Linked DNA regions of Homo sapiens. The protein of the gene in region 5 purifies or fractionates together with the protein of the main gene of each other region. This does not show direct contact. Each region holds a gene or a part of one and is shown on either strand. Other genes may lie near its edges.

What was found.
Region 1: the proteins of MYSM1 (region 5) and C2CD3 purify together in Homo sapiens (affinity purification with mass spectrometry, with the first as the bait; one large-scale study listed by BioGRID). This does not show direct contact.
Region 2: the proteins of MYSM1 (region 5) and CTSZ purify together in Homo sapiens (affinity purification with mass spectrometry, with the first as the bait; one large-scale study listed by BioGRID). This does not show direct contact.
Region 3: the proteins of MYSM1 (region 5) and AKR1C3 purify together in Homo sapiens (affinity purification with mass spectrometry, with the first as the bait; one large-scale study listed by BioGRID). This does not show direct contact.
Region 4: the proteins of MYSM1 (region 5) and RIPK4 purify together in Homo sapiens (affinity purification with mass spectrometry, with the first as the bait; one large-scale study listed by BioGRID). This does not show direct contact.
Region 6: the proteins of MYSM1 (region 5) and STK38 purify together in Homo sapiens (affinity purification with mass spectrometry, with the first as the bait; one study listed by BioGRID). This does not show direct contact.
Region 7: the proteins of MYSM1 (region 5) and NKAP purify together in Homo sapiens (affinity purification with mass spectrometry, with the first as the bait; one large-scale study listed by BioGRID). This does not show direct contact.

Annotation. Positions count from the first base shown.
Region 1 is NC_000011.10:74,014,003-74,017,502, forward strand, and holds part of C2CD3 (C2 domain-containing protein 3), read right to left. Parts: intron 1-3,500. UniProt on the Homo sapiens protein: Component of the centrioles that acts as a positive regulator of centriole elongation.
Region 2 is NC_000020.11:58,997,255-59,000,754, forward strand, and holds part of CTSZ (cathepsin Z preproprotein), read right to left. Parts: intron 500-3,500; coding exon 349-499; intron 1-348. UniProt on the Homo sapiens protein: Exhibits carboxy-monopeptidase as well as carboxy-dipeptidase activity. Capable of producing kinin potentiating peptides.
Region 3 is NC_000010.11:5,097,414-5,100,913, reverse strand, and holds part of AKR1C3 (aldo-keto reductase family 1 member C3), read right to left. Parts: intron 3,481-3,500; coding exon 3,364-3,480; coding exon of another isoform or gene 3,316-3,363; exon of another isoform or gene 2,738-3,315; intron 2,113-2,737; coding exon 2,035-2,112; intron 1,588-2,034; coding exon 1,465-1,587; intron 1-1,464. UniProt on the Homo sapiens protein: Cytosolic aldo-keto reductase that catalyzes the NADH and NADPH-dependent reduction of ketosteroids to hydroxysteroids.
Region 4 is NC_000021.9:41,753,553-41,757,052, forward strand, and holds part of RIPK4 (receptor-interacting serine/threonine-protein kinase 4), read right to left. Parts: intron 3,265-3,500; coding exon 2,973-3,264; intron 1-2,972.
Region 5 is NC_000001.11:58,693,563-58,697,062, reverse strand, and holds part of MYSM1 (deubiquitinase MYSM1), read left to right. Parts: intron 1-1,855; coding exon 1,856-1,934; intron 1,935-3,500. UniProt on the Homo sapiens protein: Metalloprotease with deubiquitinase activity that plays important regulator roles in hematopoietic stem cell function, blood cell production and immune response.
Region 6 is NC_000006.12:36,537,480-36,540,979, reverse strand, and holds part of STK38 (serine/threonine-protein kinase 38), read left to right. Parts: intron 1-190; exon of another isoform or gene 191-379; intron 380-772; 5' UTR 773-777; coding exon 778-908; intron 909-3,500. UniProt on the Homo sapiens protein: Serine/threonine-protein kinase that acts as a negative regulator of MAP3K1/2 signaling. Converts MAP3K2 from its phosphorylated form to its non-phosphorylated form and inhibits autophosphorylation of MAP3K2.
Region 7 is NC_000023.11:119,933,752-119,937,251, forward strand, and holds part of NKAP (NF-kappa-B-activating protein), read right to left. Parts: intron 2,932-3,500; coding exon 2,861-2,931; intron 2,681-2,860; coding exon 2,546-2,680; intron 807-2,545; coding exon 743-806; intron 1-742. UniProt on the Homo sapiens protein: Acts as a transcriptional repressor. Plays a role as a transcriptional corepressor of the Notch-mediated signaling required for T-cell development. Also involved in the TNF and IL-1 induced NF-kappa-B activation.

The DNA.
Region 1 (3,500 bases), on a different chromosome or scaffold from region 5:
CCTGGAGTTGCCAGGTGACATAAAGCACCTACCTACTGCTTGGCTACCAAACTTTGATCTCTCTGACTCTGGCTGACAGGGCATCACTAATTCCGCCTTTAAGGTACTTAAACCTGTGGGCTATGGTATCATGGTCCTCTGGACTCCTCTAACTCATTTTTCTTTCTTTTTTCTTACTCCATGTCAGGCTCCTGTGCTGAAGGAGCTCAAAGCTATACAGGAAAGCCATCCCAGACAGCTGGCTGAGAGCAAGGCCCTGGGGAAGAAGTGGGGGCCTGATAGGGGAGGGGGCAGTTCTGAAAGGAGATGGGAGCAGCCTCCACAGGCAAACCTGGCTGACTTCATGGCATGCAGCTTGCTCTTCCCTGTCATCAAGTCCCATGAGCTGAGGCTGTCATAAGCTGAAGGACTATTGAGAGCACACTGTACCACTTCCTGGGCACTGAGAAGAAGCTTGGTGGAGACCCTAGAGACTGGGACCACCTACCCCCTGCAGTTCTGCTCATGAGAAACTGAGGCCCAGCGAGAGTTGCGCCCAGCGAGAGTTGCGCCCAGCGAGAGTTGCTTCTGGCATCAGTAACATTCAGTTATTCTTTCTTTCATGTCTTCAATCTTTTTTAATACCTACTTGAGAGGGGCGCAGAAATAAACAGAACTCCGTTTTAGGCTTTCTCAGCTCAGAGTTAAGCCCTGGAGGCAGAGAGATCTGCCTAAAGAATTAGAATTGCCAGAATGAGATAAGGGGAGTGGAGTCAGGCATCCCTGATCTACTGCCTGGATGTCAGTTTCCCACCCATGAAATAGAAGTGTGGATGGGAAACCTTGAGGGTCCCTGCCAGTCTAGAATTCTAAGTGCCAAGGGAATGTCTACAATCTGGGAAGCTCTCAGTGCTATGAGCCCACAGGCAGCCTTTCCTTATAACCAAGAGCAAAGTGATACTAGGGCTGGGCTGCACAGCAGAGACTAGAAGATCTATCTCCCTGCCTTCTAGGCAGGTCTAGGCTAGAAGGGAAGAAGGAAACCCACTTTTTGCTGGTGTTTGCAGTTCTTCCTTCCAAAATACAGGAAGCACCTGCACTGCATGATGCCTCAGACCAGGGGAGGCCAGTGGCCAGCCTCTGCCTGTTGCTCTCCCACTTCCACACTGGGTGCTCCTGCAGGGCACGGCCTGGGTCTGAGGCTTGGGATCCCAGCGAGGCCAGTTCCAAGACAGGAGCCTGGGAGCTGCTAGACCAGTGTGGGTGGGACCAGGCCAGGGTAACCACAGGTTTAAATTGGGTGGGGAGGAGACTCTTTGTAGTAAGCTTCTCATTCATTCATTCTAGAACCAGTGGTTGTTGTCCTACCATATGCCAGGTCTTTAGTTAAGTTAAACTCTCTCAGGCTCTATGTAGCACTTTAAGCTTGTGTATATCTTTCTCTACTCCCAAGATCCAAGATGGCTGTTTCCTGAGCTATTTGGGATTTAGGATGACACAAGTCCCATTCCTGACCCCCAGCTGTACTGCAGGTAGATTTTCTGGGTCATCAGTTGTATCTTACCTTCCATTTCTTTCTCTGCTACTCTGAAGGGGAAGTAGGGAGATGTTTGTTTTATGAGCCAGATGGGAAAACAGGCCTTAGAGCATAGTATTCTATCTCAAATCCTAAAACCAGGCATTTGTTTCCCCATTTTCTAGAAGAGATGTCTTCTCTGTTTTAGAGAGACTTAGATGAGTCTTGTTCTCCATGGCTGGAAGGGCCAACTACCTCAGTTCATGAAATGACCATAAAAAGACCTCTGTTGGGCTGGGTAGCTCACGTCTGTAACCCCAGCACTTTGGGAGGCCAAGGCAGGGGGATCGCATGAGTCTAGGAGTTTGTGACCAGCTTGGTCAACATAGGGAAACCCTGTCTCAAAAAAAAAAAAAAAGGAAAAAAAAAATTAGCAGGGTGTAGTGGTGCACACCTGTGGTCCCAGCTACTCAGGAGGCTGTGGTGGGAGGATCGCTTGAGCCCAAGAATTCAAGGCTGCAGTAAGCCATGATCATGCTACTGCACTCCAACCTGGGTGACAGAGGAAGACCCTGTCTCAAAACAAAACACCTCTGTTGGTGACTCATCAAACTTTTCAGGAGCCTAAGATCTAATCAACTTGATCAACTCTTATGGACAACAGGCAGACGTGGTTCCTGTTGTCATAGGGCTGCTCAGCTAGAGAGAAGACAGACAATGAGCTACCCAACAATCACAGAGATGAAGCTTAGAGCTTGTGAGCACTGAGAAAATAGCAATTAGTAACAGCTGAGAAAGTCTGGGGCGGCTTCACAGGAGGTGGGCTCCAAGATGGGCAAGGTCTCAACAGAAGCTGGCTGTCAGGTGAGGTCTTTCATTAGAGGGAACAGCATGAGCACAGACCTACACCTACTGGCTGGGCCATATCTGCCCTGGAGCTGAATCGTGTGTGGCACCAACCTTCCAGCACTGATACCCTAACCCAATGACCTAGGGGGCCTTATCTGCAAGGCCCAGGCCCAGGAATCAGAACAAGGACAAGGACAGGGCTTGGCTCTGTGTACAGGGCAGGGGCGGGGTGTGGAAGGACAGAGAACTCACACTCAGCAGCATTTTGCTTTTGTTGACCTCAATAGGGTTTAGAAACCATCTTGACTAGTAGTGAAGATTCTTCCTTCATCAGGACTGCTACCCTAACACACAACCCTGGTGGGGTTGGCCAGAGGCGAAATTGGCCAGAGCAGGGATACCCTCAAATGTATCATCCATTCCTCTGAAATACTCCTACACTTCTGGCTGTAGACCTGAGGGCACAAGAAAGTTGTCAGCAGAACATGGGCTTTGTGGGAGGCATCAACCTTCCTGGGGAGGCAGGAGGAACACACATGGAAGCAGGATCGTCGTAGCTGGAGGGGCTGCAGGTGCCTTGGAGTCTAGACAGCGGGTGTCATCCATGGGGTGAAGTCCCTGGAGCGGGAACTTAAACATGAAGGTGGAATGTGAACAGACAATGAAGAGAGAGGGTATGCCACGTGGAGGTGCAGGTTTTGTGAGGAAGGAATTTTCTTTGCTAGGAAAGTGGTGGGGGTGGATAGGCTGAGCTGCAGGTATGGAGAACAGCCAAGACAAACCTATTACTAGAAGAGGGGTTGATGCTGGTTGAGGAAGTTCCAGAATGTCTGGGGGGAATTTGATCTTATTCTTCTTGGACTTCAGCGAGCTGATCTGTAAGGGCCTTCCCAGGGAACAGGGATGGGGTATTTGACGACTGTACTAGGCTGAAGGACAGAACTGGCTTTCCTGTGGACCGGGTGTCAAGCACGGCAGTAGGCCAGGGGCTTTCAGGCTGCCCCATTAAATCCTACCTCATCCATACATGGGACCTGTTCCTTTCTGAGTACCTGGACACCCAGGTCATGAACATGATAGGCCTCTCTGATAATAGATGTGTCTTAAAAGAGCCTTCAATGCTAAAGATCAGACTTTGCTGGGGAGAAAATGGAGC
Region 2 (3,500 bases), on a different chromosome or scaffold from region 5:
TGTTATTCACATAGTGTCTTCCCTGCTGAAACTGCCCCCTCGGTACAGCTTGGAGCGTCTCATCCGCATTCCGCACAACCATCCATAGGGGCAGACTTGCTATCAGCTGAGTGTTAACTCTGAGAAAACTGAAGTTCTTAGAGGGGAAATGATGTGGCTGTCTCGAGCCTACTGAGTACAACCGGCCAGAAGGAAAGTGGCGAAGGACGGAGATGCCTACATGAGCACCGACATGAGCCCACACTGGCGCTGTCACCGCGGATCTCTCCTCACCCGCGGGACCTTTCCTCACCCGCGGGACCTTTCCTCACCCGCAAACCTCTCTTTGCCCGCGGGACCTCTCCTCACCTGATGGGACCATTTGCATAGATTTCTGCCATCATCTTCTCCCTCCCAGAGAGGGAGCCGTAGTCTCCCACCCTCCAGAGGGTGTAGTTCCGGATGGCGTGGCACTCTTTGAATTCATTGCATGTCCCACATTGGTTAAACTTGTCACACTCTGGGGGAGAGCAAGAAAAGTCAGCATGAGGCCGTCTCCTCATCAACCCACTGACAAAGAAGCCCGCCAAGCCCACTCTCCACTCTCATCATGCAGCCTACCACTCAGCAGCTAAGAACGGAAATCATCTTGCTATTAGGTGCTGCTTAATGACGCTCTTCTTTCAGCTGCCAGGGAGTTATGAAAAGCCCTTCCCCAGGCCTTGGCAGAGAAGAAAAGAGACAGACATTAATTAGCACATAGTAGGCACCCAGGAGTTCGCCTTTTTCCTCTAATGGCTGGAGAAGGACCTTTCCACAATACTTTCTAGCTGAAAATGGAGCATAATCAAATGATTAGCACTTAATAAAATGTCTCTATTGCTGGCTGGTGAATAAATAGGCCAATACTTTGGGTAACAACAACCACAAAAAAGCATTTTCTTCTGTGCCCACGCTGAGGGGACCAAAAAAAAAAATTCTGGTTATTTCGACTTAAGAGGTTATCAAGAATTAGGCTTAAAAAATAAAATAAAGAGGGCCAGGCGCCTGTAATCCCAGCTCTTTGGGAGGCCGAGGTGGGTGGATCACCTGAGGTCAGGAGTTTGAGACCAGCCTGGCCAACATGGTGAAACCCCTGTCTCTACTAATAAAGTACAAAAATTAGCTGGGTGTGGTGGTGGATGCCTGTAATCCCAGCTACTCAGTGGAGGCTGAGGCAGGAGAATCGCTTGAACCCGGGAGGCAGAGGTTGCAGTGAGCCAGGATCGCGCCATTGCACTCCAGCCTGAGCGACAAGAGCGAGACTCCGTCTCAAAAAAAAAGAAAGAAAGAAAGAAAGAAAGGACAGGCGTGGTGGCTCACACCTGTAATCCCAGCACTTCGGGAGGCCGAGGCAGGAAGATGGCTTGATACCAGGAGTCTGAGACCAGCCTGGACAACAGAGCGAGACCTCATCTCTACAGAAAAAAAATTTTATAAATTAATTTAAAAAAAAGAAAAAGTACAGCTCTCGGTTTTGCAAGGCTCAGAGTCACTGTGTTCCCACTTTTCACTCCATCCACACGGCGGCCCTCGGCCTGCCATTCGCTGCTTTGGCGCGACCTGTCTGTCATAGTTACACATCTGTCGGGATTCCTCCCCCAGGAACATGAGCACCTTGAGGCTCAGACACTGGTTCAATTTGTTCCTTGCACACCAAGTGCCCAGTGCCCAGTACTACGGGAAAATGGTGGATGTGTGGCCACACTTTTGCTAACACTACAAAGATGACTATTTATCGCAATCAGGTTTTTTTATTCTTTTCTTTTCTTTTTTTTTTGGAGACAGAGTCTCACTCTGTCACCCAGGCTGGAGTTCAGTGGTATGATCCTGGCTCACTGCAACTTCTGCCTCCTGGGTTCAAGTGATTCTCCTGCCTTAGCCTCCTGAGTAGCTGGGATTACAGGCGCATGCCACCGCGCTCGGCTATTTTTTGTATTTTTAGTAGGGACAGGGTTTTACCATGTTGGCCAGTCTGGTCTCGAACTCCTGGTCTCAAGTGATCCGCCCGCCTCAGCCTCCCAAAGTGCTGGGATTACAGGTGTGAGCCACCGCGGTCACCAGTCACACAATCAGGTTTCTGATGAGCTCCATCTGCTCCTGTCAGGCTGGGTGGGTTGGAGGGGCCTGGCCTCAGCTGGGCGAGAGCACTTTGGCGTGGAGTGGGCGTGGCCCTGGAGACCACCTGATACCTGCTTCCTGCTTCCAGAGCCATCTGATAGCCCTTCCCTCTGCACCTTCCATCTGTCCCCCTTCTCGAAGGACTCACTCAGCCAGTCCAGGAGAATTTCTGGCTGAACAATAAGGCCTGAGAGGCAAGGCAAGGGAGCCCCGTTGGCAGAGGGTGGTGCCCAGAGGACCTTCTGCCACTTCAGAGTGCACAGGGCGCTGGGGCCAGCCTATATAGCCTGGGGCAGGGGTGGAGGCAGCAAAGCAAGCAGCTGCTGGGCTTTCCCAGCTCTCTGCTCTGGCTGTGAGGGAGATCTGAGTCAGGTGGCTTAAAACTACCAGTTATGGCCGGGCACGGTGGCTCACACCTGTAATCCCAGCACTTTGGGAGGCCGAGGCAGGCATATCACGAGGTCAGGAGATCAAGACCATCCTGGTTAACACAGTGAAATCCCGCCTCTACTAAAAATACAAAAAATTAGCCGGGCGCGGTGGCGGGCGCCTGTAGTCCCAGCTACTCCGGAGGCTGAGGCAGGAGAGTGGCGTGAACCCGGGAGGCGGAGCTTGCAGTGAGCCGAGATCGCGCCACTGCAGTCCTGCCTGGGCGAAAGAGCGAGACTCCGTCTCAAAAAAAAAAAACAAACTACCAGTTATGGCCGGGCGCAGCAGCTCATGCCTGTAATCCCACCATTTTGGGAGGCCAAGGCAGGTGGATCACTTGAGGTTGGGAGTTTAAGACCAGCCTGAACAACATGGAGAAACCCCGTCTCTACTAAAAAATACAAAAGTAGCTGGGCGTGGTGGCGCATGCCTGTAATCCCAGCTACTCAGGAGGCTGAGGCAGGAGAATCACTCAAACCCGGGAGGCGGAGGTTGCAGTGAGCAGAGATCGTGCCATTGCACTCCAGCCTGGGCAACAAGAGCAAAACTCCCTCTCAAAAACAAACAAACAAACAAACAAAACCTACCAATTATGGGATTAGGGTCTGGACTTTTCTTTCCTTCTGTTTCTAATGGGAGCAGCCTGAAAGGAATGTGCCAGCTCTAGGGATTCCAGGCTAGCTTGGGTCTGCTCATCCACACAGCACCCCCTTGGCCGTAGCCGCACCTGAATGTGGGGGACCTGGGCCCTGGGTCACCAGAACAGGAACCAAGCCAATGGCTCCTTCCAGTTTGGGGCAGCACCTCCCCACCTGCTCTCCACCAAAGCTCCTGGAAAATGAACTCTCCCTCCACAAGGCCCCCTACACCTCTCCCCTACAAAGGCCCAAAAAGCCACCAAAATGCCAGCATGTCAGAACTCAAACACCACA
Region 3 (3,500 bases), on a different chromosome or scaffold from region 5:
GCAGATATACCCACATAAACATTTGCCATAAATATTTGGCAATGTGGCAAAGTGTTAACAATTTTGAATATAAATGGTTATGTTGAATCGTGTATTATTTTTATCAAATTTTCTGAAAGTTTGAAAATTATCATAATAAAAAATTGAAGGACTAATATTAAAACTGCATTTTCTTAATGTTTCTATTTGGATATGATGGAACTGTATCATTAGGCCAAATTCACAAATTTTATACACTTCACATTTCAATGGTAGATCTTTACTCATTGGCTCTAAGTTGTATAAAAGAATAAAAAAGTGTAAATTAGCAAAAAGGTAGAGTGACTTTAATTTTGAATTTTTTTGTGACATTTGGGGGAAGTCAATTTGATCAAGGAGGCCTGGAATCATTAACAATAACTCAGGGGGAAAAAAGGACTTATCCCTAAGCTATGAAAAAACCATGCATAGAATAGATGTGTTTAAACAACTGATTGGATGACAGACCCCAAAGAGAAGTAGCAGACTAAGACATGGGCAGTGATAGGTCAGGTCTATGTTCTGCTAAAGTTCCTCAGTGTTGATTTCATCCACTGTGAACAGTTACCTCCATAAACAGGTAATTTTTCTCTTTTTTTTTGAGACGGAGTTTCACTCTTGTTGCCCAGGCTGGAGTGCAATGGCGTGACCTCGGCTCACCGCAATCTCTGCCTCCTGGGTTCAAGCGATTCTCCTGCCTCAGCCTCCCAAGTAGCTGGGATTACAGGCGTGTGCCACCAAACTCAGCTAATTTTTTGTATTTTTAGTAGAGATGGGCTTTCTCCATGTTGGTCAGGCTGGTCTCAAACTCCCAACCTCAGGTGATCCACCTGCCTTTGCCTCCCAAAGTGCTGGGATTACAGGCGTAAGCCACTGCACCCGGCCTAATTTTTCTCTTTCTGACATGGATGACTTTCATTGTCTGCAGCTAATTTTTAGTATATCTATGCCCCTGGTCAAGAATTGTTGAAACATCAAGAAGAGGCATTCAGACATCCAAATTCCATGTAAACCCCTAGCACCTCTCTTCTCTTATTCTAACTCTCTGTTCACGTACAGCTCATTTCATCTTTTCCTAGCTTCATATCTATACACCATTCCCTCCAAATCACCTTCACCCATGCACTTTCTGGTCATCTTTCATAGCTTAGAGGTAAGTCCACCTTTCCTTGAGTTCTAATTGATGATTCCAGGCCTCCCTGATCAAATGGACCTCCCCTAAATATTACACACGATTCAGCATTAAACTCATTCCAATTTTTCCCTAATACTTTTCCAAGCAGGGTACAAACAAGAAATCTTCACGCCTTTCTTGACAGAAGCTTTGCTCTCTAGATAATCTTCTACTTCACAAAGATAACTGGGACAAAACAAACAGATATTTGGCAATAGGACAGGAAGAGGGGGCATGAAGAACCGAAAGGAGAGAAGGCCAAGGGAGCTCACCTGGTTGCAGACAGGCTTGTACTTGAGTCCTGGCTTGTTGAGGATCATCTCCAGCTGCCTGCGGTTGAAGTTTGACACCCCAATGGACTTGGCCAATCCTGCATCCTTACACTTCTCCATGGCCTGTGGAGAAAGGGGTTGTGAGGAATTATTTGTGCAGTTGGCTGCAAATCACGGTAAATGCAAGACAGAACTGTGAGAGCAACAACTTTCAAAGTATGACAATGAAAATAGCTAGCAGTGATTGTCAAAAAAAGAAAAATTCAAACAGCAAATAGGGGAAGAAGATAGAGGCAGCAAGAGTAAGAATTTCTATCTCTTCCTTAGGAAACTGGATAGATTAATGCACAAGCAAGGAAAGAGATTCCTGTCCTCCTTGCCCCCAAGTCTTGTGCCCCACTCTCTAAACATTCCTTTTGTGTTTTTCCCTTCATCTCACCAAAGCTACTCTTGTAAAGTTTCTGAATTTCTAGATCTAATGGTGCATATTCCATTCTTTCCTATTGAACCTGGGAAACAGATTTTCTCTTTTTGTCATCCTTCTCTGTGTCCTCTCCGCCAAGCACTCACCTCCCAGGTGGTACAGAGATCCACTATGTCAAATATTACTTTTCCATTTTCATCTGTTGGTGAAAGTTCCTCACCTGGCTGAAATAGAAGCAGTCATTTTAATGATGTCACAAATTAATTTCTCCACTCATAGCTGTAACCCCAGGTACCTTTAAGGACACTAATCCTCCATGAGACAGGTGGTACAATGCTCCAGAAAGTGATATGTGCTAAGTGTTTTACATATGAAGGTATAAGGAATGTATTCAGGAGACAGGCTTCCTCTAATCTCTTACAAATATTATATGCATGGAAAAGGACCATTTTCTAGGTCTTAATCAAGTTTCACAGTTGACTTATGTCACTTTATTCCGCCCTTATAATTTCCTCTATTGAAGTACCTCTCTTTGATTTGGAAATACCTTGATATCCAAAAATAATGGATTGTACTCTTGTACACGGTAGGATTATCAGACCACCTGAAGAGTTGATAGTCTTTGGGCAGGACTGTGAATCACATAGGGTCAGCAGAAGTTGGGAGACCCAGAGGAGTTGTCTTATGGTGATGACCATGAGCCTTGAGCTGCTCCAAAGCCATAATCGCCACCAATGAAAAAGTTTGGGTCAACAATAATAAAAAAAAGTGTTGGAGTTTAGAGATAAGAATAGACAAATGATACATTTTTGTAGACTATTTCATATCCTTAAATGTAGCCATGTCTTTGACTTCCCATTTTACATAACTCAGTAAACTCTTTTGCATTAACTAGCCTGAGTAGTTTTCTGTAACTTTAAATCAAAAGTTATACACTACACAGTAATTCCTGGCTAAATACAGCTTCAAACTCTATTGTGAAAGAAGAGGCAGCAGAATAATAAAGCTTTGCAAGTCCACATTAAGGGTTTCTAATTTAAGAACCATGCATAGTGGCTTCCACCAAATCTGCTTCAGCTTGAAATGGGGAGAGATGGTGGAAACTCATTGTGCATCACATGTGCAGCAGTTTTATTGGGCACCACAACTGCATGAAACTCTGTGTCTGGGAACATCCCAAGAGATGGACTCAAAAGCCACAACTAAGACAGTGCCTTGAAAGAGACTATTGTAATTTCAAGTTTTTGAGGAAGAGGCTTTGAGGTTGCTGTACTCTCTTCTCTTGTAGGTGTGCATTAGAGAAGTAGGATTCAAAATTTACTCGAAAGAAAGGAAATTAGGTGTTCCACTTACGGTTCTTCTTCTGTGTGATAATCCCTACATCCTCCTAATAAAAAGCTCTGTTCAACTATCCAGATAAACAATGTTTATAATGACAGCAGAAGCGCAATTTTATGCTCATACAAACTGCATACCTTTAGAGACATTGGAGAATGAATAAGATAGAGGTCAACATAGTCCAATTGAGCTTTCTTCAGTGAGTTTTCCAAGGCTGGTCGGACCAACTCTGGTCGATGAAAAGTGGACCAAAGCTGCAGAGGTTAAAGAATGG
Region 4 (3,500 bases), on a different chromosome or scaffold from region 5:
ATCTTCCCACCCAAGCTGCCCCTCACCCCGTGTCCTCAACAGCGAGCTACTGTGGCATCCACTCTGACCAGCAAATGCTTCAAGAGTTACAAACACTCTCATCAGCACCCGACTCTGCATCTCCAAGAGCTGAGGGCTCACAGCTGCCCCCAAGCACATGGCCCTTCAACTTCAAGGTCCAGCTGTCAAGACTAAGAAAGCAGCCTGCCGGGGTTTTGCTGCCTCTAAAAGAAAGACACAGCAGAACGTGACCCGCGTGTGACCCTTTGAAAAGCGTCTGTTTTGGGCTAACTGGACATATAAATGCAGCCTGAGATTTTAAACCAAGTTATTTCATTTTTAAGTTGAAATTGATTCCAACTAGTATCTTAATATTGGTATTTAGTATATGTAATGTTGAATAATATCAAGCATTAATTTGATACTATTACTTTGTATACTATTTACATTTAACTGCTTCATGAAGTAGACAGTTGCTGTGATATTTCCAGTTTGAATCGAGCCCTGAGCACTGAGGGAGCCCATCTCAGAGGCGAATGGCAGCACTGGAATGGCAACTTAGGATCTAATTGCAGGATTCTGGATTACAGTTTTCCTGCATTGAATAACTGTCTACTGAGGACTGCCCAGAAGCCCAGTGGTCAGTCCATGCAAAGCTTCCACACTTCGTCTTCAGGAACAAAGGCGCTGACTCTCAGAACCCCGACACACACTCCCTGCTGCACTCTACGCACACCAGTAGCTATTTCACAGAAAAAATAAGTATGTCACGTAAAGGTATTTTTCGGTTTGTTTTTGGGCTTCTTGATGGTGACTAACATGCCTGATTAAGAAGGACGCCACACAAAAGCAATCTTTCCTGCGGCCTGTCAGGGTACACAGGGCCCTAAGATGTCCCAGGGGCACCACACAGAGATGTCCTGTCACTTCCTGGCCAGCACCCAGCGTGCCTTCGACAGCAGCCTCCCTGAGAAAGCAGTTCCAGGCAGCATCCGCCCCCTGCAGCTGTCCTGAAAGACAGGGAAGCCCTGCTGCCTGCTGCCCCTGCAGGAAGGCCCAGAGCTCTCTGCGTCTCTTGGGCTGTTTCCTTCACCTAAAGGCTCTGCTGCTGCCTGCCCCGACTCCTGAGGGCAGAAAAGCCCCACCCTGTGTGAAGGCCCAGCCCCAGGAGCACTCCCACCCCCTCCCACAGGGCCGCCTCTAGGCCCAGCCTGCGGGCCACACACCCTGCCCCCAAGTGACTGCTACGTGCAGTGGTCATTTGGTTTCTTTCATGTCAAGCACAGTGGCAGGCCAGGTGGAAATCAAGGTCTCTGCTCCGTGACTTACAGCTGGACGATCCTGGCTGCTAATTTACTCACTCTAAGCAGAGACTCAGCGAGAACCAGAGGCCACCGTCCACTCTGCACCTCTGCTCTGAGGATGAGGGCAGCTCCCGCAGGTGAAGCCTCTAGCATGTCCTTTCCGGTATTCAGTGCACGTTGGACGGCAGAGCTTACTAGTCATTAGGGCCCCAGAGCCTGTGCTACCTAGAAACAAGCCCGTAAATGTTGGCGGGAATGGGGGGTCCGCATGTGAGGCCCAGCCCTGCCCATCACAGGAAACGGGAATCCCAGGGGTCCCAGAACATAAGCAGATGCGGGAAACCACCAGAGAGCCCGTTCAAGCCAAGTCATTTGATTTTTGTCTCCATTATCTCAATTTCCTACTTCACTTCGCAGGACGGTGCTTCATCTTCTAGCTGAAATCTTATTACTGCGCAACACCTACCTAAGAGACAACTTATAATTACTGCCCGAAGTGAAAAATTGACCTCCTCACCACCGCCCTGGCTGAGCAAGGCACGCGAGATGCACTCGTCCGCAGAGTCTGGGCACAGGGAGCGGCCGTGCGCATGCCATACGAGCCACCGCTCCCGTCCCACCCAAGAGCTCAGGGGCAGGGCCGGGCCCTGAATTCAGGTCTCTCCTAATTAATGGTCAGGCCATCAGAGAGGCCTGGAAGTGCTGTGCCACCAGGAACAGTAGCACAGCCAAGCCAGGCAGGGGACTCCTCTGCTTGTCCCCTGCATGAACTACATGGATCCGGACCATGGCTCTCGGCTCCTTCTCACTCCCAGGGCAGACACCAGTGTCATGTGGACCAGCCTATCACCCTGGGCCTCCCAAGAGCATGTGAACATCACCACGTGGGGAAAAACTACAACGCGCCAGGTGTAACCACCACATGTCAACGACAGTACAACCCTAGCCACGAAGGCCATCAAAGGAGATACAAGGAAATACAGCCCTGATGCAAAGGTGATGATGCTAACACCTGCCAAGGCCCAGAGGCAACACTGGTTTTCAGTTACATTATCTCTCTTACTTTTCTGTGTTTCAAAAACCTATCAGCGAAGCAAAAGCAAGCTCCATCTCCCAGGCGTTGCACTAACGCAACACGCTGCCACTCCGCACTCTACGCAGGGGCAGACAGAGGCAACGAGCCCCTCCTCACAAGCCTCTTTCCACAGCACTTTGAGGACCCCACTGCAGAGGACCCCCACATTCCCACCACCCCGAGCTCCTGAAAACACTGAGGGAAATGCGTCCCTTTGTTGCAGAGCCTAAGGTCTCGCAAGGACACACCTGGCCCACGGGCTGAATTCTAACCTGATTTCATAAGACCAAAACCCACAAACCCGTAATCTTTTTCCGGAATGAGTCATATGCCAAGATTTGGGGGAACAGCCCCCATGTTCACCAAGCTACCCTCCAGCTACATGGCGTGTGGTTTTCATACCAACCAGGACAAGCTTAGGCTCCTGGAGTCCTCATGCTGCAAAAGGCCTCGGTTTCAAGCTCTTTCCTCCAAGAAGAACCACCTCCTCTTCTGCCCTTGTCCTGACCTCAGGGCTTGACCCCTTGATACCCTGCTCCCCAAGACACAGGCCCTCCCTGCCCAGCTCTCTCGGGCACCGTGCGGCCCCCCACCTTGACGTGGTAGTGGGCATCCAGCAGGATGTTCGCGGGCTTGAGGTCCAGGTGCAGGAGTGGCGGGGCCATGCAGTGCAGGAAGTTCATGCCCACCGCCGTCTCGTGGATGATTCGGAACCGGAGATCCCATGGCAATGGCTCCGAAGCCAGCAGCTTTTCCAGGGAGCCCGTCTCCATGTACTCCATGACCAGGCCGACAGGTTCGCGGCAGATGCCATACACAGGCAGGATGTAGCGAAACTTGGCCATCTCCATCTTCTTGGCTTCTTCCAAAAGCTCCATGCGCTCCCTGAAAAAGTTCAAAGGCATGAAGAATACGCAATGGTCACTCAGCCACAAACATGGAACAGCACCCTGGCCAGAAGACGACCAGCTCCAGAGGGCTGAGCAAATGCCTCAAGTGCACACACATGGGGCACACTTCAATGTCACATCACGAATGCAGGGCTTTCCAGAGTCTCAGTCCTGAGGCTGCTGAAATGTACCTATGCATCACAGGGTTATCACAAGTGAGGAGGAGGGAAA
Region 5 (3,500 bases):
TATAAGTTATTGTCACCTTTCTCTAGTATTTTTAAAATCTCTCCCTCTTAACTGCTCCTCGTCTCCTTGGCCCCATTCTGTTCTAGTCTGAAGTCAGAGTAATCTTTCTTATATCCAGATCTGATCATATTATTCTCTTCACTCCCCAGTTGGTTTTTTGATAAAATCCTCATTCTTTAACTACCAGAGATCTGAGTGATCCACGCCCTACCTACCTTGTTCATTTAGTCCAACAAATTTTTATTGAGTACCTTCTACATGCCATGCACTGATATACAACAGTGTATCAAAACCAAGTCTGTGCTCTCATAGAACATTCTTGTTAGATAACATAGACAGCAATCCTATATATATGTCAGATGGAGATGGGTGGAGAAAGATAAAGGAGGGGAGGTGAATGGTTTGTCAGCTTTATCTTTTACATTTATCCAGGAAAATTATATAAGATTGGAAACTACAGGACCTCAGAGGTAGTATGAAAATACTGGAAGGACTGGATTTGGAAAATGGGAGAAACAGCAGAATTAGGGCAGATTAAATGGGGGTTGTGAAGAAAATGGTCAGGCTTGGATTTCTGGCTTGGATAACTACGGAGATGGTGGTGCCACTGAGTGAGATGGTGAACAATAGAAGAGTAGCAGATTTGGGAGGAAAGGTGATTTCAAGCTTTAAACATGCTAATATGTGGTACCTATGGAGATTCAGGTAGAGATCCAGAAGTAGCTACCAGAGTATGAGTGTTGCTGATTCTTCTTATTGAGGAATAAAAAGATTTCTACAGTGAATTTGAAATGATAGTGGTTCTATTTTCTGAACTCTTGGCAGACCTAGTTACTTGAGCAAAGGTTTCTTTGAGCTGATAAAAGTCTCAGAATCCTTTATTTACCCTTCCTGGTAGCCTCTTCCAGATCATAGTTGACATTTAAGATTAAATCTATTTACCATCAACAGTTGAGAGAAATGATTGCTTTTAGAGAATAGTTCATTAGCCCCACAATTTATTATAACTACTGCCTAATTAAAGATTCAGATTTATAAGCCTGTTGAAAGGTTTTTGCAGTCTTAGAGATGGAAAATTCTTATCACTAGACAAGGTCTAGAAAAAGTCAATAACGAAGCAAAATATTAAATTTATATCATGGATTGAGCCCCCCAAAACTTACTCAGCCTTTTCAAATATGGGGTAAACAATGTAACTTTAAAGAGCTCTTAGGAGCTTAATGAAACGAGTGAGATAATTTAAAAAGTTTGATCTCCCATGGACATTGAAAAGCGTCCAAATCAAATTAATTTTTTAAATTATATGAGTTGTTATTAAAACCACATTTTTCTTATCTATTCACTGTACTGTCCTTCTTTGAGTATTTTCTGTTTTGGTTCTCTCATCTAGTTTTTTTTTTTTCTTTCATTTTATAGGTGGTGCTATTGATGGTGGTTTTTATAATTTAGATACAGCTAAAAGGTTTAATCACAAAGTTGAATTCCTGTATACACATGGGTACTGGTACTAATCAGCTGAAACTGCATTGTTGGTTCAAGTCACAGAGCATGTTGTGATTGCTGCTTTGGGGTATTGTTTTCCTCATGAGATTGTTTATTCTCGAGAACCAAAAGAAGTGAGCAGTCAGACTTGATGTTTCACAATTGAGATGGGGTAGCTTAGCACTACCACGTGTTTCACAGGCCAAAGAGGTAGAGCAGGCATTTCCACAATGTTAAATCTGTTTGTTAAGGGGAGAAGGGAACTAAGTATTTGCTTAGTTCCCTTACTACCTGCTGGATTCTGTGCTGTGTAAGTTACATTCATTAACTAATATGATTTTCACTTATATACTCATTTTCTTAATTATTACAGAAGTGGTGAAAATACAGCATCAGTTTTACAAAAAGATCACTATCTTGATTCATCTTGGAGAACAGAGAATGGCCTTATTGTAAGTATTTTATAAAAATATCAGGTGCATTAAGCTGTTATTTATTGCCTAGAGTGCTTCTTCTTTTTTTTTTTTTAAACTTAGTGCTAGTTCTCAACTATCACAGATATAATATTTTTCTTTTTTAGAAATTTAGAATTTTTTTTTACTTTAAAAATAGAAACCTCTTTCTTTTGACATTGAAAAATGGCCTGTTGAGAAACAGGTTTGGAGCCAGCTAGATTTAGGTACAGGTCTTTGCTCTACCACTTCTCAAATTTGTGAACTTCAGTTTCTTTACACCTAAAAAAGTGGTAGGTGGGCAAGGTGGCTCCTGCCTATAATCCCAGTGCTTTGAGAAGCCAAGGCAGGAGAATTCCTTGAGCCCAGGAGTTTGAGATTGCAGTGAGCTCTGATTGTGCCACTGCTCTCCAACCTGGGCAACAGAATGAGACCCGGTCTCAAAGAGAAAAAAAAAATGGGATTGTCACAGGGCTTATTTCTTCATGTAGTAGTTACTTTTTTTTTTTTTGAGATGCAGTCTCTTTGTCGCCAGGCTGAACTGCAGTTTCGTGATCTCGGCTCACTGCAACCTCTGCCTCCCACATTCAAGTGATTCTCCTGCCTCAGTCTCCCGAGTAGCTGGGACTACAGGCGTGTGCCACCCCGCCCAGCTAATTTTTGTATTTTTCATAGAGGCGGGGTTTCACCATGTTGGCCAAGCTGACCTTGATCTCTTGACCTCGTGATCCGCCCGCCTCAGCCTCCCAAAGTGGTGGGATTACAGGCGTGAGCCACCGCGCCCGGCCATGTAGTAGTTACTTATTGAGTACTTACTCGGTGCCAGTCAGTAGGTCAGGCTTGGAGAATACGACTACAATGAAGACAGACGTGTTCCTGCTCTCAAGAAGTTTATTTTCTAAGAGGGAGTTAAGTAATAAACAGGTAGACAAACTAATAATAGATTTTGAAGGAAATAAGCAAGATGCTGAATGAGAGTACCAGAGTGGGAAACCTAGTTTAGATTAAATTGTCAGTGAGGGAATCTCAGAGGAGGTGAGATTTAAGTTGAAAATGATGGGAAAAAGGGTAGATATGTGAACAGTTAAAATAAAATTATAGGCAGAAGGAACAGCAACTACAGAAGCTCTGGTTGAAGGCCAGTGTCTAGAATATGGTGGGAAAGGAAGGAGTGGCAGCATGTGGCAAGGTTGGAGAGGCAGGCTAGAGTTCTGTCATGCAGGACTTATGAGTCGGATTATGCTAAAGGGTTTACATTTTGTTTTAAAGGAACTGGGACATCATTGAAACATTTCATATAGATTTAATAGAGATTAGCAAATTTATTTTTATAAAATTAATTTTGGGTACTGTGGTAAAGATTGGAGGGAAGTAAGAGTGGAGTTAAAGGGACCAGTTAGGAAACATTCACGGTAATGGAAGCAAGATTTGATGATTGGGACTTGGCCTGAGGTAGTAGCAGAAGAGATAGAGTAGATAGATTTGAATTATATTTTGGAGGTAGAACTGGTTGATAGATTGGATATGGGCATCAAAGGAAAAGGAAAGAATCCACAATGATTCCTG
Region 6 (3,500 bases), on a different chromosome or scaffold from region 5:
TTGCAATGAGCGGAGATCGCGCCACTGCACTCCAGCCTGGGCGACAGAGCGAGACTCCTTCTCAAAAACAAACAAATAAATAAATAAATAAAGATATATTTGTGTGGGCCAGGCGCGGTGGCTCACAGTTGTAATCCCAGCACTTTGGGAGGCCGAGGTGGCCCCGTCTCTACTAAAAATACAAAATTAGCCAGGTGTGGTGGCGCATGCCTGTAATCCCAGCTACTCGGGAAACTGAGGTGGGAGAATCGATTGAACCTGGAAGGTGGAGGTTGCGGTGAGCCAAGATCATCCTGTCGCACTCCAGCCTGGGCAACAAGAGCGAAACTCCATCTCAAAAAGAAAAAAAAAGATATATTTGTGTGACTTACAGGTACAGGTAAAGTTGCTTCTGGTTTTCTGGTTGTTGCATGGTATTTCCTATGCAGCCACAGCTCTTTATTTTCTTACTTAAGTGCCTCCAACTTCCCATAACACAAATTAAGGCATGATGAACATCCTCTCTGTGCTGAACATCCTGTGTATGTCACTTTAGAAGCCTGTGTGACGGTTTCTTTAGTCTTTATACCTAGGGGTGGGATTTCTGGGTCATAGGACAGTAATTTATATTTATTTTCACTAAGTATTCTCTTTCTCTGGCTTTTGTTACATATTACCTGTTTGTCCTCCAGAAAACTTGCACCAATTTACATTCCTACCAATAGGGTAGGAGAGTGCACACTGGGTGGATTCTAACTCCAAATCTAACACCTCTTCTTTTCTTTGTTTCTAGCAGCCATGGCAATGACAGGCTCAACACCTTGCTCATCCATGAGTAACCACACAAAGGAAAGGGTGACAATGACCAAAGTGACACTGGAGAATTTTTATAGCAACCTTATCGCTCAACATGAAGAACGAGAAATGAGGTAAAGAATTTTGTTTGAAAAAATTGTGTCATGGTTGTGGCATTCCTTTCTCGTATTGTAAAACACTTATAATGCTGAAAGGAGACAAGAATAGTAGCAGCCTTATTATAGACTATCATAATGGAATGACAGTGAAAGGGCTTTTCAAAGTCCCTGCCATTAACCCACTTATGCCTACAAGTCAATAACACAAACTTCTATTGAAATCCAAGAAAAAAAATGATACTTGGGAGGTTGAGTTGGGAGGATTGCTTTAGCCCAGGAATTTGAGGCCAGCCTGAGCAACACTGAGACTCTGTATCTTAAAAAAAAAAAAAAAAAAAAAATTAGGCCCAATCCAAGGAGTTGATTGTTAAGGCAGAGTGGTATAATGGAATAGCAGCCCTTTTGGAGTCAGACTTGGGTTTAGAGTCCTGCCAGTTTCATTGAATAGCTGTATGAAGCTCTAATAAGTTCCTTAGTCTTTCTGTGAATTGGTTCCCTCATCAGGAAAATGGGGATAATACTACTTGCCTTGCAGGATTGTGTTGGGGATTAGATATAACATATGTGAGTATGTACCATAGTGTTTCACACATAGTAGTCACTTAGTTAATGGTGGTAGTATCAGCTATTGTTATTACTGATCTGGTGTATACTGTCCACTTAGTAACTCATAATTTATTTATTGGTTTTTTTTTTTTTTTGAGATCGAATCTCACTCTGTTGCCCAGGCTGGAGTGCAATGGCATGATCTCAGCTCACTGCAGCCTCTGCCTCCTGGGTTCAAGCGGTTCTCGTGCCTCAGCCTCCTCAGTAGCTGGGACTACAGGTGTGAGCCACCACGCCTGGCTAATTTTTGTATTTTTAGCAGAGACGGGGTTTCACCATGTTGGCCAGGCTGGTCTTGAACTCCTGACCTCAGGCATTCCACCTGCCTCGGCCTCCCATAGTGCTGGGATTACAGGCATGAGCCACTGCTTGGCTGTAACTCATAATTAAAAAAAAATTTTTCCCAATATTTTACTATGAAAGTATTCAGAAGTACAGAAAACTTGTAATAAACAGTGAATATATACATATATATCATCTAGAGTCTATAATGGTTATTTATTATATTTGTTTAACTGCATATCCATCTATCCATTCTTGTATCTGTCATTAATCCATCTTAATTTCCTTTTTTTTTTTTTTTTTTTTTGAGACAGAGTCTTGTTCTGTCACCCAGGCTGGAGTGTAGTGGCGTGGTCTTGGCTCACTGCATCATCTGCCTCCTGGGTTCAAGTGATTCTCCTGCCTCAGCCTCCCGAGTAGCTGGGATTACAGGCATGCGCCACCACGCCCAGCTAATTTTTGTATTTTTAGTAGAGACAGGGTTTCACTGTGTTGGCCAGGATGGTCTTGATCTCTTGACCTCTTGGCCTCCCAAAGTGCTGGGGTTATAGGCGTGAGCCACTGTGCCCGGCCAATCCATCTTAATTTTTTGCCTCACTTCAAGGTATGTTGTAGACATCAGTATACTTCTGAATATTTCTGCTTATATAACATTAACTAGAATTCAGTATTTATACTTTTTGGGGAAGGGTGTAAAATTTATATACAATGGAATGCACAAGTTCAAGGGTACCATTTTATGAGTTTTGACAATTGCATACACTTGTATAACTTAAACCTTTATCAAAACAGAACATTACGTCTCCCAGAAAAAGTTTTCATGCCTCTTGGTTCTTCAACCTTAGACAAAGACAACCACTGTTGTGATTTTTTTTTTTTCTTTTTTTCTTTTTTTGAGACGGAGTCTCACTCTGTTGCCCAGGCTGGAGTGCAGTGGCGTGATCTCGGCTCACTGTAAGCTCCGCCTCCCAGGTTCACGCCATTCTCCCACCTTAGCCTCCCGAGTAGCTGGGACTACAGGCGCTTGCCACCAAGCCCGGCTAATTTTGTTTTTGTATTTTTAGTAGAGACGGGGTTTCACTGTATTAGCCAGGATGGTCTCAGTCTCCTGACCTCGTGATCCACCTGCCACAGCCTCTTGAAGTGCTGGGATTACAGGCGTGAGCCACCGTGCCTGGTTGTGATTTTGTTTCTATCATAGTTTTGCCTATTTCATACAAGTGGAACACATAAATGGAAACATGTAGTATGTACTCATTTGAGCAAGGCATCTTTCATTTAGCATATTTTTTTTTTTGTCGAGACGGGGTGTTGTTTTGTTGCCCAGGCTGGTGTGCAGTGGCACTATCATAGCTTACTGCATCCTTGACCTCCCAGGCTCAAGCGATCCTCCTGCCTCAGCCTCCCAAGTAGCTGGGACTACAGGTGCATGCCACCATGCTTGGCTAATTTTTAAAATTTTCTGTAGAGACAGGGTCTCACTTTGTTGTCCAGGCTGGTCTCGAACTCCGGGGTTCAAGTGATCCTCCCACCTTAGCCTCCCAAAGTGCTAGGATTACAGGTGTGAGCCACCACACCTGGCCAGCATATTTTTGAGGTTCCTCTGTGTTGCTATATGCATCAATAATTTGTTCCTTTTTATTGTTGGTACTATTCTGTCTTCTGACTATATCTTTGTTTGTCCATTCTCCTATTGATAAACACCTGGGTTCTTTTCAG
Region 7 (3,500 bases), on a different chromosome or scaffold from region 5:
CAAGCGATCCTCCTGCCTGGCCTCCCAAAGTGCTGAGATTACAGATATGTGCCACTGTGCCTGGCCAGTTTTTTGTTTTGTTTTGTTTTAAAGAATGCCTATCTTTGTGAACCCGGGAGGCGGAGCTTGCAGTGAGCCGAGATCGCGCCACTGCACTCCAGCCTGGGCGACAGAGCGAGACTTCATCTCAAAAAAAACAAAACAAAACAAAAAGAATGCCTATCTTTTAGAGAAAGGTACTGAATTGCTTATGGATGGAATGATATCTGAGATTGGGTCCAAAATAAATGATGGATGGCAGATACTGCCCATGAGTTGATAATTATTTAGACTGCATGACAGGTGCAGGAAGGATCATTATACTATTTTATGTAATTTTATATGCATTTGAAATTTTCTGGCCGGGTGCAGTGGCTCACTCCTGTAATCCCAGCACTTTGGGAGGCCAAGGTGGGAGGATCACTTGAGGTCAGGAGTTCGAAACCAGCCTGGCCAACATGGTGAAGCCCCATCTCTACTAAAAACACAAAAATTAGCCAGGCATGGTGGTGGGTGCCTATAATCCCAGCTACTCGGGAGGTTGGGACATGAGAATCGCTTGAACCTGGGAGGCGGAGGTTGTAGTTAGCTGACATCGAACCACTGCACTCTGTTGCCTGACAGAGTGAGACTCTGTCTCAAAAAAAAAAAAAAAAAAAAAAAAAGAAAAGAAATTTTCCATAATAAAACTTAAAAAACTGACGATCTGTGTTTCTTCTTCTTTTCCTTTTTCTTGGCTTTCTTTGCTCTCCTTTTGTTATCTTCATCTGCAAATTAAAGCACATTACAATTAAGAAAAAAATTTTTTAACTCTAAAACCGTAGTACTTTTGAGTAGGTAACTATCCTATTGCTGTCCCATTTATTGTTACAAAGAAATTACCTCATTGAAACATTTATTGCTATTTGTCACGAACTGTAGGGAGGTACTATGAACATAGAAATTAAAGTCACTAGGTTTTGATGATATAGGGTATTATTATTAATTTTATTGTGTGAGATAGTGTGGTGGCTAATTAGGAAAATGCCTCTTTTTACGGGATGCATACAGAAATATTTAGGGTGGAAGTGTGATGATATTTGTAATTAACTTTGACTATCTCAGTGAAAAACCCATATTTGAAGCAAATATGTAAAAATACCAACAACTGCCAAATCTAGGTGATTAAGTATATGGTATTAATTATACTATTCTCTTCGCTTTTCTGAATATTTAAATATTTTTGTGATAAAAAGGGAAAGAAAACTATGTGTGTGTTGGAGAGGGGAGAGAGAATCCTTTCCTGGAGCTCAGTCTAATGGAGGAGACAGATAGGTAAAGAGATCAATACAATCTGGAATGATAGAGGGAAGCTTGGGGAACCTGGACACACAGAGGAGTCTCAAAATCAGACTGATTTGAGGAGGGTGGCTGAGGAATGGTTGATCAGGAAAGGTGACTCTTAAAGTAGTTCTTTGATTACAAAAGTAATGCATGCCCATTGGTGCAATGAGTAAACCAAGCTGGATGGAGGGAGAGACTGGCATTGTAGGCAGAGGGCCTCTCTACCAAGTAACAAGAGAAAGAACATGGAATACTGAGGAGACAGAAAGTAGTTTTCAGATTACAGAGGATGTTGCAAGAGAGTGTAACAGGGTATATGTGATTAGAGAGAAATGAGTCAGGGTCTGAACTTTACCCTGAAGGCTATGGAGTGCTATTGAAGGATTTTAAGTAGGTATTTGGTGTATAGGGTATTATTACTAATTTTATTGTATGAGATAGTGTTGTAGTTAAGTATAAAAATGCCTCTTTTTAAGTGTTGCATACAGAAATATTTGAAAGTTCTGTCTTCGAGCACTGAGGAAGAGAAGTGACAGGGAGGGCCAGGAAACTTCGGCGATATCAGAGGAAGGTGAATCTTTGTGTAATGTGTTAACCTCAGAGGAGGCACCTTCTGGTCAATCATCAGCCAGGAGAGAGTACAAAAAGGAGACTCTTTGTGATGCACTACCCCAGATAGGGTGCCTTCCACAAATAGGCAGCCAGCATGAAGTAGGCACTTTATGGCATACCTTTTTGAAAACTGTAGAGGTGCTCATTGGGCATGAGAATTAAACAAAAGAGCCCTTCCACTGGGCCGATGCAGCCCTGTAAGGCTTACTTTGGTACAGCCCAACCCCCTGACTTGGTCTGGTGCCATGTGCCTTGTACACTTTGCACAACCAATCCCAATCCGGAGTCAGATTGCTTAGGTTTGAATCCAAACTGTGTGACCTTAGGGATAGTACTTATAACCTGCTCTGTCTCCATTTCCTCATCTATAAGATGTACCCTACAGTTATTGTATGGATTAAATGGCAATAATAAATATAAAGCACTTATTGGGGTACCTGGCACAAGGTTAGCAAGTGTTCAAAAACTCTTCAGTATTATTATTGTTTTCAGGAACCTTCTTCTAAAATAAGTTTTAAGAAGTAAAACTAGTTTTGAAGCAAGGCTTGCAGAATGCTGTTGGCGTTCTTACCACTGGAGTCTGTTTCAGAATCAGAGTCACTGTCGCTATCTTCAGAATACTTCTTATGTTTTCTTTTCGATGATTTTTTCTTTCTCCTTTTCTTGGACCTTTCTTTTGAACGGCTAGACTTCTTCTTTTTTTCTTCTAAGAAAGTACAAATTAAAAAATTATATTCTAAAAAACTATTTCTGAACATCAAAAGAAACAGACGATGGGCAATTTGAGTAAAAGCAAAGTCTAATGTTCAACTATTTACAAACTGATTTTTTTAAATCTCTCAATAAAATAGCTTGTATTTTAAAAATACCCTTTTTTTAAAAATACCTTCTGAAGTAGAAGCTGAAGTAGTGCTTTTCTTTGGCTCTTCATCCTCCACTGGTGTATGTTCATCAGAACTGAATTTAAATAAAATGGTTATAAGAATTAGGAAAGTGATGAGATATGGACCATGGAGTGTAAAGATATGAACTCCAAATTTTTCAGTAACAGCATCGATTGTCCAAGAACCATTAAAAGCAAGCATTGGAGATCCTAAGGCAGAACTTGGGAATCAAAAAAACCAAAACAACAACAAAGCAAGCACTGAACTACTTTCATAAACGTGCAGTTCAAGGGTCTACCATCTTTGTAATAATAAAATAACTTATCATTTGCATAACACTTTAGAGTTTACATAGTACTATTTAAACAAAGCAGCATGGAGGATTTATATTTTCACAAGAAACCACAGGGAAAAAGTAGAGAAACAGGAACCATAGGAAAGATTAAAGAAACTGGGTATAAGAAGGCTGAAGAAAGACTTTATAATTTTATTTTAAGCACGTAAAAGACAAATGGTAAAGCAGCAACTGTTCTGTCTCCTCAGAGCAAAAACCTAACAAACTACAGTCTAAAGAGATGTTGTTCTGTTGCAGAGAATTCTGAAAATGAGTATTATTCAAATTCTACAATAGTTTAGAAAAGG